Linked DNA regions of Homo sapiens: regions 1 and 3 are each linked to region 2. Evidence: fine-mapped expression QTL. A gene starts in region 2. Each other region holds a variant in brackets. All regions are shown on one strand. Distances are from middle to middle.

Region 1 (5,312 bases), 38 kb after region 2:
ACATAAATTCTAAGTTTGAAATCAGTTCAAAGTTTATTTATAGATATATCTTTCCAATACAACACTGACCGCTTAGATAAAAATCTTAAGTTATTTATTTCTGTGTTTTAAACATAAATATGTTTACTTGTGATTTAGCTTTGGAGCAAATTTAGGTAAGTTATCTACTTAGCCAAATGTACTCTAGTAGACTAGAACCATTCTTTGTGAAATGTCAAAATATGGCTATGGTTTCAGGAACTTTAAAATCGGTTGTATTTTACTTTAAATAGAGATGTAGCAATATCTCGTTTGCTAATATTTATATTGATGACTTACTCCTTTTTTGTTGAATTGTACTTCTGGTTTTATAACCTGAAATCATCTACAAGCTTGTCCAACTCTAGCCCACGGGTCTAATGCAGCCCAGAACAGCTTTGAATGCAGCCCAACACAAATCTGTAAACTTTCTTAAAACATGAGATTTTTCTTGCAATTTTTTTTTTTTTAAGCTCATCAGCTATCGTCAGTGTTAGCATATTTTATGTGCGGCCCAAGACAATTCTTCTTCCAATGTGGCTCAGGGAAGCCAAAAGATTGGACATCCCTGATCTACATATTTAACTTAAAGTATCACTCAGTGAACCTCTGTCAGTATAATATTGCTTTCAAAAAGATGGTTATGTCAAAAGAAAAAATATAGCTAAGTATATAAAGGCATAAAAAACTTAAGACAATTACATGAACTTATTCTCAAATATTTTACATTTTTTGTAAACTTTCTTAAAACATGAGATTTTTCTTGCAATTTTTTTTTTAAGCTCATCAGCTATCATCAGTGTTAGCATATTTTATGTGCGGCCCAAGACAATTCTTCTTCCAATGTGGCTCAGGGAAGCCAAAAGATTGGACATCCTTGATCTACATATTTAACTTAAAGTATCACTCAGTGAGCCTCTGTCAGTATAATATTGCTTTCAAAAAGATAGTTATGTCAAAAGAAAAAATATAGCTAAGTATATAAAGGCATAAAAAACTTAAGACGATTGTATGAACTTATTCTCAAATATTTTACATTTAAAGGGTTTTACATAAAAATTTTTCCCTTGTTTTATACTGGAAAATTATATAATTCATGATCTCTAATTTTCAAACATTCTCAAAAGTTTAGATCTTCAGAGATAAGCTCTGAAAATATAGATCCATACATATAAAATATCTATGAAATTCTTTTAAAAACTATTGTCTAACTACAAAAATAATGGCATATACATGCATAAACCATCTTTAATTAGAAAATTTAGTAACATTCATATCAGGCATCATCGATTTTTCTTTTCTTAGCTCCTGTATTCTTAGAACCAGATTGCTGAAGCATGTTTGCAGCCTTCTTCTGGAAGTTGCCTGAATTTTTTTCCTCCATCTTTTTATCACCTTGTTCAGAATGACAAGTTTGAGACGATTCAGCCTACAAAAAAAAAAAAAAAACAAAGCAAGCACCTTGGTAAAAATCCAGCTATTCAGTTTTCTCATGAGATTAAATATTTCAAAATATTCTTTCTGTATCAGTTGGCTTTTTAAGTATACAGGGGTCTAGTTTTTTATCTACAAATTTCTATTCAAATATGAGCTCTATTTTGAATAAAAGGGGCTACGTTGTGAGAGAAGTTCTAAAGACCTCAAATGTCCTTAGACACAATGGCACTTGACTTGACATGCTTTTGCAGACTTGATAGTATTTGGTTTAAAACAGTGGTTTCTAACCACTGGAACAGCAGAAACAGACTTCTCAACTATTAGTAATCACAACCAAATAAGAGCAGAGTGCATAACAAAATTAGATATTCAAACGGAGTCCTCCCATTCCAAGAAACTGGAAACCCCTAGTTTATGTTAAAAGGCCAGTCTAAATTCTTTCACTTACATCTTTACAGAAAACTATATTTTCTCTCTTCCATACCCAGAAATCTAATCAGAAAACTGACTTTTCTCATGTTCAACTGGACCTAGGGGAATATGACAGAAAAGCATCCCATAGGCTTTAATATACTTTTTAAAATATATAAAACTGAAAATTAATAGCCATTTACCCTGAAAGAGTTCTGCGTGGACTTTGTCACTTGCATAGTAATAGCATGTGCCTCATTGTTCAGAAGATTAGCTTTAGGTCCTATTTTCAAATACGAAATGGTAGCATAAGCTGTAAAACTGTAGTCTTCTCTGCAGAAAATAAAGGCCAACAATAAGAAAGCTTTTGAAGGAATCACGGAAAACAAATTTATAAAAGAAATAACTATATGCGCAGTAATTCTTAACACATTGACTTGAAATAATAAAATTTACAAGAATGCAAATAAAGCCTTTAAAGAAAATATTTTCGTTACTTTTTTTTATTTATAGTGATTAAAGTTTGAGTGTTTTAGGTAAATTACTTTCTATAGCATTTAAAAGTTCACACAAAATAACTGCAAAACCGTTTATTCTGTTGCAATTTTTAAAAAAAAACCATAAAGACAACCTGAAAGAATAATGAATGAGTTTGTACATACTTAAGATACTGCTGTATTAGAAAGTGTGCAATAATCTTCTCCAGATCTTCACGAGGAAGTGTGGGAGCCACAACACCTGCTACTCTCAGTTTTGCTGCACCCTTTCCCATCCAAGAATCAATCAGTTTCAATGGAGTGAGTTTTTCATTCAGTTCCTCTGCCTGCTTCAGGATCTTGATTAGATCTCTGCAGTACTCTGTTATGTTCTTTCTTTCAAATGCTGTAATAAAACAAATATGGTAGCAGGTAATTAGGATTTAGAAATGAGGGCAAAGATAGGCTATCTTAAGTAGTTAAACTGGTTTAAAGCTGGTTATCAATGTGAGCCACCC[TA/T]AACATTGATTTTTAAATGTATTCTGAATTAAGACTAGGCTATTCCTCAAGTCTCTGTCACTAGACCAAGTTATGGTCTCTGTAAGCATTGTGGGGTTTACAGTGATATATATAAAAAAAAATTGGTTATCAGAAGCCCTGCCATATACTCTAGAAATCAGAAAGTGTCTGCCAGACATGATTACTAAGTTACTAAGAGGTGTGTTTTATAGGAGACCCTGTCTGTTCTAGTATAGGCTCCTGAGTGAACTCTGATTTAGCAACAAGAATGTCCTCAACTGATAACCCAATTATTAAGAGACCAGTACTCTGATTTATATATAACACTCTTGTTATTTTATAAGATAGTCTAATAAACTCATAAATTTCTCTGTCTGCAAAGTTAAAAATACAGTGGCTTCCACCTAACAAGGCATCAGAACTCAGTAAGGTCTTACCATGAGGTACTGGCTAGTCCAGATCTTGAAATACAACACACGGATGAAAAAAAGTTAAAATATAGTGCCAAAATGCTGCAGGCAAATCCGAAAATTGGGACTCAGCCCAGGAGGGTTCCCAGTTTCATGCAAGAAACAATCTGAGAGCAAGCCAACAGAGTAAAGTGAAAGCAAAGCAAGTTTATTAGCAATAGAGTATAGGAAAATGGCGGCTCCATAGACAGAGCAGGGCTACCCCAAAGGCAGAGTGGCACTGTACATTGCTCACTAGCGGTATTTATAGCTGCTCCTTAGTTATATGCTAAATAAGGGGAAGATTATTCATGAATCTTCTAGAAAAGGTTAGGGAGTTCCTAGAACCATGTAATTTTCGGGCATTGTCACGGCATTTGTAAACTGTCATGGTGCTAGTGGGAGTGTCTTACATCATGCAAATACATTATATTTTCTAGTTCTAACTTGTTTGGGCCAGTTTCTTTGCTATATCTTGTTTTGACCAGATCCTGTTTTGATCAGCAGGGTTGTGACCAATGCTCAGAAAACAAATCCTGCTGATCTACATTTAAAAGAATTTTAAGTAAATCTCCGATGACTAGCCATTAACTGGATCAAAAGTGATTCTCTATAGTCTCTATTTTGCACTAAATTTTCTTTTCAATTAGTGACTATAAAGTATTAGAGATTATCACATGGTTTCCCTTTTCTTATAGAATAGCATTTCTATTCAGAAAAATTCAAATATTTTCCTTCATTTATTAAAAATTTCACATCCTCAGTATAGCAATATAAAATGTGTGCATACACATAAGACTTTTCCTTTTATTCACCTTTGTTTCAAAACTTCATGTTGATAGTTTTAATTCTGGAAAATCTGATTCACACTTTAATCTTTTAAATCCATTTGGAAGTCTAATACTTCTCTCATGTCCCAGCTGTATATACAGTTTTGTGCCACATAATATTTTGGTCGGTGATGGACCACGTATATGCCAGTGGTCCCAAGAGATTATATAATACCATATATTTTTTTTTGAGACGGAGTCTCGCTGTCACCCAGGTTATAATACCATATTTTTACTGTACTTACTCTATGTTTAGATACACAAATACTTAACCATGTGTTACAGCTGCCTGCAGTATGCAGTACAGTAACACGCTGTACAGATTGGTAGCCTAGGATCAATAGGCTATAACATATCACCTAGGAGACTATACCATCTAGGTTTATGTAAGTACACTTTGATGTTTGCACAATGACAAAATCACCTAGTGATGCATTTCTCAGAACGTATCTCTGTCACTAGGCATTATGACTGTATTAGCCTATAAAGGTTTACAAAACAACAAACTCACCACTGTCTTTACAGCAGTTATCGCACATTTTGTTACATGCTTCTGAGTTCCATACTTCATCAAAATGTTGAGCCATCAACACACGACGACATCTGCAAACACATTTAAAGATACAAATTATTAAAGGATATAATAAAGTTTTAAGAATCTCTATTTCAGCTTACATAGTTATATACTGTATTAGCTTCCTATAACTGCCATAATATTACCATAAACTTAGTGGCTTTAAACACATTTATTCTTACATTTCTGTGGTTTAGATTTAGAAGTGTACTATGGGTTTCACTGGATCAAAATCAGAGTGTCAGGTTCTTCTCACATCACACAATCTAAAATAATCTCCCTATTTTAAGGTCAGCTAATGAACAGTCTTAATTCCATGTGCAATGCTACTTTCCTTTTGCCATGTGAGGTAACATACAGGTTAGGAATTAGGACGTGAACATCTTTGGGGGGCCATTGTGCCCCCGACATAGGACTTTTTTCCCCACATATTCTTGATAAACACTGTTTAAAAAATTGTCTGAGTTCCATTTTTAAATTCAATGTTTTGCAACTATTAGGAGAATATTCTTGACAGTAAAATAGTTTCTTATATTTTAATAAAGTAGCAATATTTGAGTTGAAACCTTAAAATATGCTTCATGAGACTCTACTGGCC
Region 2 (11,609 bases):
AAAGAATAATCACAGGAAAGAGAAAAAAAGTAACCAAAGAAGTAAAACAAAAATAGGAATATTGTCAAAAAGTAATTCATGTTTTTGCAATATAATTAGATCTGTAAAATGTTTTGACTTATTTCTCAATTACCTTTGAATATAAGGAAGGTAATTACATTATGAATCCATAAGTCATGACCATCTGACAATTGACATTAACATTCCTCTTCAACAGGTTACATTAATAAATACAGAAAAGCATAGTGTCCGTTCCTGAGGCAGACGGCTGGGGCAAAAGAAAGTTCTTTACAGACATCTGATGCTGTAACTATTAGTCAACTGACAAAAATTTAGATAATTTCAAATCACAACACAGCCAGCTGATGTGTCCATTTAAATAAATATTTCTTCTTATTGAGAAAAAAAAAGCTTTTTCCTTTGTGAATGCAATTTCACGGCCAAAAGAATAACTATTTTTGTTGTTATATCAAATATGTTTTCTTAACTGCTCTTTTGCTAAATGTAATCTACGCACTAAATGGCCTGACTTGAATCAAGCCAGAAATTTTTTAGACTTGTATCTCCAAAGTTTGAAGATGAAATGAGAATGTTTCTTTTCCTTTGTAGCTTGCTGCTTTTGGTCAAGCATTCTCAATGTCCACCATTGTTAGCATAAATAAACTGAGTAAAGATATTTTGACAGCTAAAACTTTAAAATCTCATGTAAACTTGAATATATTTTCAAAATTAAAAGGGAAAATTTACTTAAATGTTCATATACATATGTTTGGGGTTAGTTTAAACTTAAAAAAATTAATGTGTACTGCAATAATATTTGAAACAACAAATGTGTTTCATTTTTCTTTCTAAAAGAAGTAAAATTAAGAGATAAAAAATCTTTAATTTCGGTACTGTCCGTCAACTGAAATAAATTAGCCACATTCGATACCATAATTTAACATTTTACTCATTACGAATAAATTATGCTGTACTTTCTTTGCATCTTAATTTATTTTTTAGAAATCACAAGTTATTTTAATCAACAAAAATAGGAGTAGAAAGTGTTGCTTCTTCCTTTTTCTTTAGTATAATAACTAGCCTGAAAACAGTTTTTTTTTTTTTTAATTTTTTTTGAGACAGGGTCTCACTCTGTCACCTAAGCTGGAGTGAAATGGTACAATCATAGCTCACTGCAGCCTTGCCCTCCTGGGCTAAGGTGATCCTCCCATCTCAGCTTCTGGAGTAGCTGAGACCACAGGCATGCACCACCATGCCTGGCTAATTTTGTGTTTTTTATAGAGACGAACTTTTGCCATATTGCCGAGTTTGGTCTCAAACTCCTGGACTCAAGCGATCCACCAGTCTCAGCCTCCCTCCCAAAGTGTTGAAATTACAGGTGTGAACCACCATATCTGGCCTGATTTTATTTAATTATGAAAAAAAAATCTGAATTTCCCTGATCTTCAATGTAACTGATGTTAAAATGTTACCTGATGTATTAAATAGAAAATAATTAAGCCTCAGATCATTAAATAATAATTCTTTCAACTGCTGTCACAATTATTTTATATATGGAAATCATAGCAATTAATGAATGAATGCCATGAAACATAAGTACTAATGTTTTATTCAAAAACAGCATGAAAGTTATAAATCTATTTCTTTATAAAGGATACAGAAAAGTACATGCAAATTATACTATTTCGTACTATGAAGGACATCTTTTAGAAGTTTTCATCATGATTCAAAAGTTATAGAAACGAGGTGCGGATAATAAAAAAGGTTTTATATTTGGCTTTGGAATTTGTGTACTTACAACTTAATAAGAGTATTTCCTGTTGATATGGTTTGAAACTTAAATTGAAATATGAAGCTCCATGGTACCGCTTGTGAAGAGCTTAGAAATTTTATAAACCGAGTAAACAGCATTGGAAACCCAGCAGGAAAGCCTCTTATTGTAATAAAGAGCCTGATTCCATTGTTGATGTTTGACTGCTGGAAGCTTTCAGGCCTCACGACTCCCCTGTCCCTTGCTGCCCCACATCTGGGCAGTCTGAGAAGGTTTCAGTATGCCCCTCCCTTGGTGCCCACGTGATTTTCAAGCCATACAAGGACTGGCCTGTATGTGCCAGAACTCTCACCCCAGCTCGATCACCTAATCTCATTAAAAACAGGGCCTGTCACCCTTCTCTGCTCTCCAAGCTATTTTTGGATCAGCTTATAATCCTGTCCTATTCTCCCCAGAAAGCCTCATTATGTAAGTAATAAGCCTTTTCATTCCCTCATGGGGTGAGTGTGTGTGTGTGTGTGTGTGTGTGTGTGTATGTGTGTGTGATCATTAATCTTCACATCCAAATCAAATTTTGGATGGGGGTTCCTTCCTGATACTGTGAGTTCCTTCCTGATACTGTGGGGTGACTGTAACATTTATCTACCTAGAACAACAGAACAACCTGGTCTCAAAATATCATATCAAACTATTGAGAAAGGAACAGCAGTATCTCATAAGGCAAATTCATGTTTCACAATTGTAGATTCAGCCATACTATGAAGCCTCGGTCTTTATAAGATTGTGCTTACTATGTTAATTATAAAGACTTAAGAAACATTTATTGAATAAATATTACTTAAATTGCTGTGCTAAGTGCTGGGATTAGGGCCACAAGCAAGAAAATCAAAGGTGAATAAAATACATTCCCTTTCTCAAAGAAGCCTAATAAGGACACACCAACTTTAACACAAGAAACACTGCTCAATGCAGTAAAGTACTACAGATTTGGCCATTTCTCCCTGAGAATGGTGGGTGGCATCTGAGCTTACCATTCTTAGACCCATAGATTTCTATAGGCAGAGCAAGAAAGCCTGTAATGAAGGAAACCAAAATTCTTTTTTTTTTTTTTTTTTTGAGACAAGGTTTTACCCTTTCTCTCAGGCTGGAGAGCAGTGGTGCGATCAAGGCTCACTGCAGCCTCAACCTCCCCAGTCCCAGGTGATCCTTCTACCTCAGCCTCTGGAGTAGCTAGGACCACAGGTACTTGCCACCATGCCCAGCTAATTTTTGTATTTTTTGTAGAGATGAGGTTTGGTCATGTGGCCCAGGCTGGTCTTGAACTTCTGGGCTCAGGCGATCTGTCCACCTCAGCCTCTCAAAGTCCCGGGATTACAGGCGTGAGCAACCAAGCCCTGCCTGAGACAAGAATTTTTGATGCATTCAGGGAACTGGGAATGTTCCAGAAGCAGAAGTGGTAGAAAGGCAGAGGAACCACATCTCCCTTTTATAAGATAACTCTTACGGCAGCATGGAGGATAAGTTTAAAGACAGTGAATGGAGGAACAAAGACCAATCAGGAACTCATTTTAATAGTCTAAGTGGGCGAAGAAGACCAAAAATAGCGCAGTAACAGTCAAAACTGAAATGAAGGAACTGGGAAACACTTTAGAATTGGTAGGACTTGAGAAACTACACTTTGAAGTTGAGGGAATATGGTGTAAGAAATGCATTCAGTTTTCTAAATGGTATAAGTTTAATATTTATAAAACAAACATGGTATATCATGGGGTTAAATGTGATTTTTCTGGTTAATTCAGCTCCAAAAGCTTAAGAACAGTATAATAGGCGTCAAGTTGACCAATGCCTTCAACGCAAGGTACTAGACCACACAGGCAACGCGTGCTAAAAGACTATAAAATTGGTTTTGCCAGCATTAGTGCATCACATTCACTCCCTGCTCCAACATGCTCACGAAGCATATGGGGAAGAGGAAGGGAAAGTGTTTCACCCCACCACCACCAATGCCCTGTCCGCAGCACAAGTGAGGAGGACGTTAAGGGAACCATTTAGAGAGCTTTACAGGTAGCCCCTGGAGTCCGAATGATGCAGAAACTGATACTTCATTCCACTGAAGACACAGAGGTGTGACTAGGTAGACATTCGGACAGCAGAAAAGAGAGATGCTCTGTTGGCTTGATGTGCACTTTCAGAGTCTAGTGGGGACAAAGGATGAGTGAGTTTCCCAGAAGCCCATTGTGGACCCTGTTTCATCTTAAAAGGGACTGAATCTGGAGAAGGAAAGGCCCAGAACCTGTAGGTGAGAGATCCCCAGTGATGTGGAGATTCTGATGTACCCATAAAAGCACCCCAGCAGAGAATCAACATTTGGAATCAGCCACACCATGAAAACAGCGATGCTAGATTATAACTAATGTTTGTGCCGGCAAATGTTGAACAACTGGCTGTCTGAAAAAACTGCATGTATAAATATATGTGTGTGTGTGTATGTATATATACATAGGTTTATTATAAATTTTATTGAAAGGTGTATAGCAAATATTTTACAAATAATAATATGCAATACTCTTTATTGTAAATTCCATATAGCCAGCTGATTCTACAGAATCCTTTCATTGATTTTTGCTTGTATTACCCAAACTATGACAGCAATTGATGAGTGTAGTTTGAATGTTGATTGACTTTTCTATTTACATTAACTAGTAAGATGGAAGTGAAACAAAGGAACAATAGGTTGCAATTTCACTTGTTTGTCTGATATTAGTGAGTTCTTTGCTAAATTGAATAGCAGCTCTCTGAAAAAAGAATTTCTTCAGTTTTTTTGTGCTATTCACAGTGTACTACAATCTACCACAACAGACATGACACTCTTTTAATTTCATTATTAACATTCTCTCCATCAGTTTTTTTAAATGAGTCTCCATCTATTTTGTGTTTCTTTAACTTTTAAGTTCAGGGGTACATGTACAGGATGTGAAGGTTTGTTACATAGGTAAACATGTGTCATGGGGGGTTTGTTGTACTGATTATTTCATCACCCAGGTATTAAGCCCAGTATCCATTAATTACTTTTCCTGATCCTCTCCCTCCTCCTACCTCCACCCTCAGACAGGCCCAGTGTGTGATGTTTCCCTCTGTGTGTCCATGCTGTTCTCATCATTTAGCTCCCACTTATAAGTGAGAACATACGGTATTTGGTTTTCTGTTCCTGTGTTAGTTTGCTAAGGATAATGGCCTCCAGCTCCATCCATGTCAGTGTAAAGGGCATAATTTGATTCCTTTTTATGGCTGCATAGTATTCCATGGTGTATATGTACCACATTGTCTTTATCCAGTCTATCATTGATGGGCATTTGGGTTGATCCCATGTCTTTGCTATTGTCCACCACCTTTTTAACTCTAAAAAATCAACAATAAAATAAATCAAACTCTGGTTTGTATAATCTGCCATTTTCCATGGTGTAAATACTCCTATTACGGCCAATTTCAAGATCAACATGACGTCGCTGAATGAGGCAGTAGGAAGAAATGTATAGTAGCCCACCATTATATTTTTACCTGTAGATACAATAGATGTAAATAACCTCAAGAGTAGAGATAATAGCAAAAGAGTTAGGAAATAAGAAGTTTTGAATATTTATTACCTTTGTCTTAATATAACTTATTTGATTATGTTTATACAATTTAGTGTTTAACAATAGCTGTGTTAACAATCAGCTCACACAAATCCTAAAATTTTAACAATCAGCTCTCACAGATTCACAGTTGTACCACACCACTGATTCATAGATATAGGAAGACAGCCTGCGGTATGGCAAGAATGACACCACGGCCATGATGACTGATGTTGGATTCCTGCATACTAAGGTGTTCTGCAGCAAGGTCCTTAAACAATGCCCATAGCATAGATAACCCTTCAAAAGAAACAAAGCTTGTAACTTAGATAATTCTCTCATTAAGATTCTTATCTAGACTCCCCAGTGTTCATGAGTTTTGCAAGAAAGTCTGAGACATGATCAGCTGTACATCTTTTATCCTAAAAGCTTACATAATTTCTGGAGGGCAGGTGTGGGGATGCACTGTAACAGAATCATCATTTCTGTGTGTAAGTCCCTATTAAATACCTCTTTCTGAGAAACTGGATTTGTCAGTTTTTCTTTGGCCTCTCAGCTCTCTCAGCCTTTGGGGGTAGGTTTGCATATATATGCTCATACAGGAACAACAGTGAGGCTCTTTCCTCTCCTTACTCCTTACCCACCCTCCAATCTTAAAGCCCCTGAAAACATCAGCTCTTAGTTAGGAGAAGAGCTGGAGCAAAAAAGCAACAAGAAATCAATTTGCGTTGCCTGTAGTTAGGTGAGGCTTTAATTGGATGCGTGTCTGGAGTTTTGATAATAGGTAGTACCAGACTTTTTATTACCTGAGAATGATCAGATAAGCTAAATTAATAAGAATTTAGAGGAGAAAAATACATTCACAGGAAAAGCGTTGAGAAATAAAAATGTTTGCTTTAATTTCTTCCCTATAAAGTCCAGCTTGTTCAGTAAATCAGTTATATGAACTAACAAAACAAAGAAGAGGTTTCGAGTGCAAGATGAATCCAGGCTGTACTTACAGCGAATTGGCAAAAACCAAGATAAAAATGAGAAGATATCCAAGATGTTTCAGAAATTTCAGGCTTGAAGATTCAGAGTAGATTGCATGAGAGATAGACATTTGGGAGTTAAAAGCATAATAGGCTTGTTAAGGTTATGATCATAGATAAAATCCTTTAGACAGAGAAACATAGTCTATTCAACAGGGCACAGGCAGGCAACTTAACCATTAATCCTACTAAGAGGCACGCACTATGCTAGGAAGTTTAAATATGTTGCCTCACACATGCATCAAAACAACTCTACAAAGTAGATCTTATACCCGTCTTGCCAATGAGGAAACTAGGGTTCAGATGAGGTAAATAACTCACTGAATGGTCACACAACAAAGAAATGCTGGTGCCACATTTGAACCTAGGTCATCTGACTCAAAAGCTATTAATCACCAACTATGAAATGTCATTATTCATTCCCAATTTTTGCAGTTGAAAATTAACCTCAATACTCCTATTCTAGGCATTTCTGATATCAACTTGAAGAAGAATGGAAGACTAGATTTTGATGGTAGTTTGAAAGTTGGGGATGGCCTTCAAGAGATTAGGTGGGTATGGGAATCAGATGTAACAACATTATGGAGAGAAATAGAAGAAGATAGCTTTATCTCCTTCAGTTTTTCCACATGAATCTTGAACTCCCCAACCACTTTTCTTTCTTTCTTCCCTTTTACCATCTCCTGTATTTCCCATGCTCATTCCTGCTGCTAAGCCTTTGGTTCTTGGGATATTTCCCACATGACTTGCCACATCTTCTTCTGAACCTATCCAAATGCTATGGGCCTTTGAGATTCAATATAAATTCCACTTCTTCTCTGAACCTTTCTTTGCCAAGTCCTGCTTTTCTTTTCCACCCATAAACATACACCATAATATTTAGCAATACACTGGTATTTCTTTGACTCCTCAGAAACAGTCACCAGGTCACTCCTAAGCTTGCTGACCAGAGCTAAAGGGGAGCTGAAGTTCTGTCTTTTCTGCTTCTCTGCTGCTTCCTGGCATTGGGCCTCCCTTATTTCTAGGTGCCCAGTTTTCTTTGCAGTTGCCCTTTCTCCTAACCTGTACCTATTGCTGCCCTCCCTGTGGATAACATGTTTCAAGTTACCTACATCTTACTTTTAACCCACTTTACATCCAGTATATGTATCTAATTTAATCAACATTAAGGTGAGATGCACTGAAAGTTCTTTAACCCTTAGACATTTCTAAAAGTTGGATATTCATGCCAGTGTGGCAGGCAGCTAGGTCTTATCCCTACATCACCTTTGACAAAAAAGCCAGCCTTCACAAGGGGAAGAAAAAAGGAGAGTGTGGAGTCATTACCCCTTTACATTTGAGGAGCCTCCTACTACTTTGCTTCCCCTCCCACAGACGATGATCTCCTTCCGTTTCCCCTGGGAGCTTAAATTCCACTCCATTCTTCCTTCCGACTTCCATAAAGAGGAAACCCCTGTCACAATATACAAGAGGATCCTGACCCTGGACAATGAATCTAAAAATCTTTAGAAGGACTTCAGGGGAGTTTCATGCTCCACCAACTTCCTATTTCGTTGAGCACATTTTTGTTGAATACATACTCCCTACTAAACATTGGAGATACAAAGGGAGACAAAAATAATCCCTGAGATTATGTAAGCAGTTTATGGTGGTGGTGGGGTCAGGCAGTAAGAATTTACAATAAAGTGGGATAAGTCTAAATTTAGAGGATGACAAAGTGCTATAAGAACACACGGAGAGGACACCTAGCTGTCTTGAGGATGTTAGATAAAGTATCTTAAAGGGGAAGCAATGGCTTGATGAAACCAAAGGTTGATGAGTTAGCCAGGGAAAAGTAGTTGGGAAAAAGATATGTGCAAATGCTCAGAAAGAAAATGGCATATCCTGGGATCTGGAAGTGTAGTGTGGCCTGAATGGAACACAGTGTGAGTGAGATAATGTGAAAATAAGCTGAAGCAAGATGAGATCTAAATGGGCTTAAGGAATGTATTTCCTCCTCCTAGAAATGAATGCTTTGTTTGGTTGCTATACTAGTAACAGGAATTAGACACGTTTATTAAACCGCTTACCATTTAACTTGGTAAATCAAAGAACAATGATTTTTACAGGTATCAGTAAATGCCTGTAATTAGATACGTGGTAGGCTTTCCTGTTAATATATAATGGTTATTCTCAGTGTTTAAAGAATTAAAGGGACTCGGGTAATTACCAGTTTTAGAGTGAACCATTTGAGAGATAATACCTTACCATTACAAAACAACTCCTAGGGAAAGTTATATGAGACAGCAAAGGTAATAGTAAATAGTAAAATAATATGAATAGTGAATAATATAGTAAAAACAGTTAAAAATGATTTAGCAATTTCTTAAAAACAATTGACCACGAAAAAAATTCACAGTAAAACCGAGACTGGGAATATTTCATTCAACCCTCACACATGCTGCTATTGACTGGAAATTTAAGAAATGTTCATTTGTTTTGACAAAATGGAAAGCAACTGTACATTCTTCCTGGAAACTTTAGCTGAGGTCAAAGTTGTAAATGAAAAGGATGATTTTTTAGAGAACAATTCAGTAGTATTGTTTTGCCTTGTCATGAAGAATTTTTGTGCTTCCACAAACAAAAATCTTGGATTGTTAGGTGAACGGTGGCAATCAAGTGGTTTTCAGAAGACTCAAGTTTCTTCATCTACAAAAATGACAGGAGTGGGGTCAGGATGTTCCCGAAGGCTCCTTCTACTCATAAGAGCATAAAATCTGTGCCTCTAATTTCTCGCAGAAACAAATAATGAGAACTTCACACCAATTCATTTATTATATGAATGTTTTGTCCCGTGAGAACACTGGTCTATCTTTAGATATGTAATTTATCAAACTTCTTTGGGCAACCCATCTTCTTTACTTTTTTATTTTTAATTTTTTGGTTTTCTCTTTGTCAAATTTTCATGGAATAACTACATTCAGGTGTAGTAATAGTAACGCAAAGCTCTGAACACCACGAGACAATTCGTTGCTTCCGAAACGCAGCCGGCAGCAGGTACTCGAGATGAGTAGTGTGAGCTCCCGAGCACCCGTAGGTCGGATTATCTGGTAAGGCACCGGAAGTGACCGCCTCGCGGCTGCTTCCTCTCCTGGAGTCCAGAGTCCCGTTGCTCCGCCGCGATATTCAGTAAACCACTGGGAGTCCGGCAGCATGGAGGCAGCGCGCCCTCCCCCGACGGCAGGGAAGTTCGTGGTGGTCGGCGGCGGCATCGCGGGCGTCACTTGTGCGGAGCAGGTAGGGCGGTGCTCAGGCGGTTCCGCCTCTTTCCCCGACCCCAAAGGGGATAGCACTGGAGGCCTTCCTCCCACCCCCTCCCTTTTTCTTCTTCCGGGTTCCTTTTTTGCTGCGCCCTTTTCCGCACTTATTGCTCCCAGATTTTAGAAACTGCTTGGTGGTCCTCAGATGACCTCACTAGCTTTCTCTTAGGCGCAGGGAGGAGTGGGAGGCAAATTATAGCCGAGAAACCAAAGCTGGCTGATCCGTGCTCAGATCCTTGTAATGTCAGAGCAGACATGAGGACTTTGTATTTAGACAAAAAATTCAGCCCCCTTTCTTTTTATTTTTTTTTCTTTTTCTTTGAGACGGAGTCTCACTCTGTCGCCCAGACTGGAGGGCAGTGGTGCGATCTTGGCTTAATGCAAGCTTTGCCTCCCGGGTTCAAGCGATTCTTCTGTTGCGTCAGCCTGTAGCTGGGATTACAGGCGCCAGCCACCACGCCCCGCTAATGTTTGTATTTTTAGTAGAGACGGGCTTTCACCATGTTGGCCAGGCTGGTCTCGAACTCCTGGGCTCAAGCAGTCTGCCCGCTTCCGCCTACCGAAGTGCTGGCATTACAGGCCTGAGCCACAGCACCCGGCCCTCAGCCCCCTTTGTTAATTATCGTAGGTGATTGAGTTTAGTTTCCAGATAGTTGCCAAGTCTTTAGTGCATCTTAACTAATTAATAAAGAATCCCATATGTAAGTTTTCTATACTTCGAACTCCCAAGATAGAAGAAACTTTATTTCTAGTAAAGTTTTGTAAAATAATCAGCGAAGGATTAAATGCATGTAGGGCTTGCTTTCTTGATTATACTGAATAGCCAGACCATATATATTCAGATACATGTGTGTATTCCAAAAAGTTCTACATTATTTTGTTGATATAAAGTAAACATGAGCAATCACTGAAGTCATAAGAAATAGTGGAAGAAACTCAAGTGTTTCCATCGTTGGATGCGTATTTTCCGTTTATTCACTAAGTAAACATATATGATGCAGGCACCGTATTAAGGGCTGAGTGTTCAACTATGAACAGCATGGTATATACCATGCTGGGGACTCACAGCCTGCTGGAAGAGACAATATTACAATATTGTATGTCTATGCAAGAGATATCAACGGTTATCTTAGAGGTGCCTGTGGAGTATGTAGGGAGTGAATTAGGGAAGAGGAAATTTTTTTAATCAAAGAAGGTATTTTTAAAATCTCATTATGAAAGAATGAGTGAAAGTTTACCAAGTATTCAAGAAAAGAATGTCATCTCCAGTGGAAAAGCATGGATCATCAGGGAGCAGTAAAGCTTAAAGCATAGATCATAAGGAGTCTTAGCATGCTGAGAACTTAACAAGAATTTACAAGTAGTCAAATGTTTTTGAGCAGTGGAGTAACTTGATCATATGAAAAGGCTTGAAAGATGATTAGTTACAATGTATTTGTGGCAGAGGCAGCTGGTTTATACGTGAAACTGGAGAGCCAATTCGAAGGTGATTTCAGTAGTATAAAGAAGTTTTGAGGACCTCATCTAGCAATGGAAACAGCAGAGATATAAATTACAGAATATACAGAGGAAAGAAAGATGGAGAGAGTAATGATATTGTCAAATATAGAAAGTTCAAATAAAATGAGACTGAGAAGAATCGCATGGGTGTTGGGCACGATAGCTCACACTTGTAATCTTAGAACTTTGGGAGGCCAAGGTGGGAGGATTGCATGAGTCCAGGAGTTTGAAGCCAGACTGGGCAACATGGCAAGATCCCATCTCCATTAAAAAAAAAATAAATAATCCCTTGGATTTTAAGGATTCATAGATCCCTCAAACATGCTGTTTTAGTGATGGAGTAGGAATAGAAGCCAGATTATTGAGGGTGGTGGTGTCGAGGAACCAGACTTTG
Region 3 (5,000 bases), 130 kb after region 2:
TGCATTTACTGGATTTCTCTATATTTACTTTTCAATTGATTACAAACTCATGTGAGGGAAAAGGGATGTTATAATGACTTATTAAAACATAGAAGGGGAGAATGGGATAAGCTTAATGAGACATATAATGGGATAAGCTTAAGATTCTCCAAAAAAAAAAAAAAAAAAAAAAAGATGACATTATAGACAAACACACAAGTCAACAGTGTGGTAACTCCAATATGTAAATTGAAAGGCTGAAGCCATTTTTAGAATACGATTATCGTTTATTCTCTTGAAAACTATTTAAGAAGCCAAAAAATTCTTCACTTCCCACAGAAGAAAGTTCTCCCTACAAGAGTGTTATACCATGTCCTAGAGCTTTCTTACCCTCAGCAGGAAATTTAGCCTGGATAAGGATTCTAGGAAGATGTCAGCTCCTTTGTTTGAAAACTCATACCTCCCAGCAATGAAAAGGAACAAAGTCTTTTCAAGATCAAAGTCGAGATGACTAAAACAAAACAAAACCAAACAGTTTCAAATGAAATACAGCAACAGTAACAAAATGTACACATGAATTCTGTTAATGTACAAAGGGGGCTGGGAAAGATAAACATTTATTATTACAATTCTGTTTTCTCTCTACCAAAGATCACTCATATCTGATACTTCTTTTTCTTTTTAATAAAGAAAATCATACCCATAGAAATGACCTCGAACAAAATCTTGGATTCTGGCCTTGTACATGGCATGTAGATTTTGAAACTCATGCACTGCTGAAAATTTCTTAACATTCAAGCCGTTTGGAGTAACTACATCTAGAAAGGCAAAACAAAATTATTATGAAAATTCTCTTTTCAAAGAGGGTACCATTGTAGAAAAAAGTATCTTTAAAACTATAAAGTTAGATGTTTATTGACATTCTACTTTCTGACTACCATAAAATTTAAAATTTATAAAACTTCCAGTTCATAAAAAATTCATAAAAATTCGCAACAAATTTGGTCTACTGATTGAAATAGGAAATCAGAAATGCCTGACCAAAATAACAATGAAGCACTGGTACAATGAAACAAGTTAATCAATAACAATAATAATGGTTATTATAGTACTCATTTATTGATTATTTAATGTGTACCAGGTGTTGCTCTAAAGGCTTAGAGTGTAACTCAATCTCTTCAACAAACCAAGGGAGTGAGTGCTCTTATCTGCATTTTCAGAGGTGGAAACTCAGGCACAGAGTTGTTTAAAGACGCCGTCCAAGAACACACAGCTGGTAAGTCGAAGCAGAATCCATGCAGTCTGACCCCACATACTGTTTCCTTAACCCTGCACTAAACTACCTCCTGCCATCTTGTTTTCCACAAGTGTATGGGACACCTTTTGTGCATTTGGAAAATTGGAAAAGGAAACCTCTTACTTCTAATTTCTATTCTTATTTCCATCTCTTATTTCTAACACAACTGATTCATTCTTCCCAGGAGATTTTGTTGCTCAGGCAGGAAGACATTCTTGGTTTTCAAAACATTGGTCTGTGACAAGAAAGAGAGGGACCACTCTGAGCATATGACGGAAACTACCTACTGAGTTGAATACATGGGTTATCAGATTTAGCAGCATAAAGCAAAAACAAGAAAAAAGAAGCTATGTTAAAAAAAAATGTGGCATAGGGCTATGAAGATTTTTGTAATTTTAAGAATCTTTTCCAGCCTGGCCAACATGGTGAAACCCCATCTCTACTAAAAATACAAAAATTAGTCAGGCATGGTGGTGTGCGCCTGTAGTCCCAGCTACTGGGGAGGCTGAGCCAGGAGAATTGCTTCAACCCAGGAGGTGGAGGTTGCAGTGAGCTGAAATCACGCCACTGCACTTCAGCCTGGGTGACAGAGTGAGACTCCATCTCAAAAGAAAAAAAAAAAGAATCTTTTACAGTTAACTGGCTATTTTCTTGACATGGTTCCACAAAATCAATCCAGGCTTTTTGGTCATTTTTTGTGGAAAATAAAAACTTACTGATTTTTATGAGTTTTTATTAAGTAATCTGACCTTTGTTACACTCTTTTACATACATGGCCACAGTAGAATCAATTTTAAGTAGCCAAGGTTTCCAGTGAAAGCTTTCATGTGAATAATTCCTAAATGAACTATATAATGTGATTCGTACAGTATGACAATTACATCTTAAAATGTATTTATCTTTCTACAGCAATTATGTAGGGCTCACTTTGTGCCAGGCCCTATTATATTTGATATATAATAATTTTTAAAAATCCCTATGAGGTAAATTGTTTTCACTGTCCCCATTTTACAAATAACGAAACTGGCCTGCAGAATATTAAGTCATTTGCCCAATGTCAAGTAAGCACAAAGTAACAGAGGCTGGATTTAGAACCAAAGCAGCCTGGCTCAGGAGTTTCCACCCTTTTGATGCAGTGGTGTCATACAACTGTACCATACAAAAGCTATAGAAGGCAAGAATGTATGTGGATACCAGCTTATTATGGATTGTAATCCTCAGCAGTTTTCCAAATTGTTTCACAAACAATTATAAAAAAAAGATCTGTGTCCTGAAATTGTCTGTTCATTAGCCTAAAGTGTTAGGCCAGTGAGGTCTTCTAATATCCATATTTATAACAGAATAATCTCACATGCACAGGCCTATGTGCAGTCATATGCTGGTAAAATTTAACAAAGAGTACTCCAGGAAAAAGAGAGAAAAAGAGAGAGAGAGATAGATAATTTTAGTGTTTGCCTTTCTCCAAGGTGTAAATATTCCCATCATGACTGATTTCAAGCTACCAATGTAAATGCAGAGTTGGGAAGAAAAGTGCAGTAACACCATTATACTATTTCCATCCATGA[AATAT/A]ATATATATATATATATATATATATATATATATATATATATGGATGTTACTGCACCATTATATAGGTTATAGGTTTTAGGTTATTTGTATGTAATGGTGCGCAGTAACATATAATGGTATTACTGCACTACTATATACAAATAACCTAAAATCATAGTAAAATGTAGTAAAATAACCAGGAAATGATGTTAAATTAGTTAAATTAATTTGATTAATTTAATTTAATTAGTTTATATAAATACATGTATTATTACATAATAAATTAGTGTATATAAGTTATATGCTCATATCATTTAAATTTTTAAAAAATCAAAATATTGACCTTGAAAAATCTCCTTTTCACTTCCGTTCCATAATTTTTTCCTTTCCCTGGAAGCAACATTGGTCACTAATTTCTTGCTATTGTTCCCAAGTAGAAGACAATGTTACCCACCTTTCTGATGTTAACAACGCCAACACAAAAGAAAAACGTTGACTAAAGGATGGTATTAGCTAGAGTTCATAGTAAGGTATTAGCATGGGCTCCAAAATCAATAATTGCAACACTATTAATGACTATATTAAAGGGAAAATGACAAATTTTTTTAAAGCAACATAAGATATTTAAGGCATATGTTGTATTCAGTTTTGTATCTGTAATTGGTAAATTTATCATACTGCCTTCTCTCCAATATTTTTAAGAAAATATCACCTTTTCAACATCTTAAACTATTTTGAGTCAAATTTATGGCAAAAGCATAATGATATAGTAATAAATATAAGCTTTTGCCAATTATTATTATATAGTGACATTTTGAAAAATATCTGGTCCCATGCATGTTTTTCACCCAGCCAATTTTCCTCTTGCTCTGTAGTTGCACCCTCAGCGTTAAAAGTAATGGCTGTAGTTAAACTTTTAATCGGGGAAGACTTCAAGAAAAATCAAGGAATACAAAGTCATAGTTACACTATGTGATCTTTTTTTTTTTTTCAGAATGCTCTTGGGAAGGTTTATATGTTTAATGATCTACTAAAAGTCCATTGACCTTCTTGAGCCACAAAATGTTCAGAGATTTCACAATTTCCATCAGAGCCACCACATGATTCTACTGCAAGTCTGAAGAAGCCCAGATTGCAGTGTTTATGGTTTCTGGTAGAACTTCCAGAGAAAGCTAGCTTGTGGGCACTCAGTAATAGATGAGAACTTGGGGAAAATCTAGACAGTGATCCACACAAAATAATAATCGATATTTTCTAAATCTTTACAATGTACCAGGCACTGAGCTGAGTTTTTTCCATATGTTAACGTTTGAATCATTGCAATGATTCTAGATAAGAGAAAGGATTATCCACATTATGCAGATAAGACACAGAGAGCTTAAGTAACTTTTATAATGTCACACAGCTAGTAACGTATACTCAACATAAAATCATTTTTGGTACTGAATACAGGCAGTTTGGCAAAAAGCTCATGCTTTGACCACTACTCTGTAGCTATATTCTTAAGAAAACAAAAATTTAAGAAAATAGTATATAGAGAAAGCAGGACCTAGAATAGAATCTTGGAGAATGTCCACTTTGAAAAGTAAAAGAAAGTAGAAAAATGATTAGAGGCACCAGAAAAGATTATACTGGAAAGAAAGTAGAATGTGCAGTGTCATGAAAAATAATGGAAACAGATGTTCACCGCCTTTAAATGCTAGAGAATATAAAGAAAAATAAAAAACATTAGATGACCCTGAATTCGATGATTTTTGGAAACACAATTTTAGGCCAGAGTTGGAGGTCGGAAGCCAGAGTCCCAGGGGCTAATGAGTAAGTGAACCTAGCAATTATGGTTTACTCTTATAAGATATTTGGCAGCAGGAGAAAGGAGGAGATGGTATGATATTTGGCAGGGTAGAAACCTCAAGAGAAATTTTCATTTTAGAATAGGCAAAAACAAAGAAAGTATTTTTGTGAGCTCAGAGAAAGATAACTGTAGACAGGAAAAAGGAAGATCCAAGAGAGAAATGAGCATATTGATGGAATAAACTCCCAAAAGAAGAATGAGAGTAAGAATCCAAGCGAATTCAAGAGAATCCTTGGAAAGAAAAAAGGCTACTATAGGTTCTTAATGCTGCCACTATTCAAATTAGTTGGGTTCTTGTTCTATCTTGTTTTTTTTTTTTTTTTT

Evidence for each region. PIP is the estimated chance that this variant, and not a neighbour inherited with it, causes the effect.
Region 1: its variant is the best candidate, but not a certain one, in a credible set for the expression of PYROXD1 in whole blood (TOPMed, PIP 0.84).
Region 3: its variant is the best candidate, but not a certain one, in a credible set for the expression of PYROXD1 in monocytes (BLUEPRINT, PIP 0.58).

What each region holds. Positions count from the first base shown.
Region 1 is chr12:21,468,900-21,474,211 of GRCh38, forward strand. PYROXD1 (pyridine nucleotide-disulphide oxidoreductase domain 1) reads left to right here. Exons shown (of 12, transcript NM_024854.5): 12 at 1-2,351. It overlaps RECQL (RecQ like helicase), which reads right to left. Exons shown (of 15, transcript NM_002907.4): 12 at 4,652-4,743; 13 at 2,529-2,748; 14 at 2,070-2,199; 15 at 11-1,447. The coding sequence ends at 1,295. Among named protein-coding and RNA genes, the nearest start is that of RECQL, 30 kb to the right of the region's middle. The variant TA/T (reference allele first, on the strand shown) is at 2,861.
Region 2 is chr12:21,428,123-21,439,731 of GRCh38, forward strand. PYROXD1 (pyridine nucleotide-disulphide oxidoreductase domain 1) reads left to right here and starts at 9,533. Exons shown (of 12, transcript NM_024854.5): 1 at 9,533-9,692. The coding sequence starts at 9,609. RefSeq lists enhancers at 9,362-9,441, 9,492-9,681.
Region 3 is chr12:21,562,549-21,567,548 of GRCh38, forward strand. It overlaps GYS2 (glycogen synthase 2), which reads right to left. Exons shown (of 16, transcript NM_021957.4): 6 at 680-797; 7 at 370-490. Among named protein-coding and RNA genes, the nearest start is that of SPX, 39 kb to the left of the region's middle. The variant AATAT/A (reference allele first, on the strand shown) is at 2,842.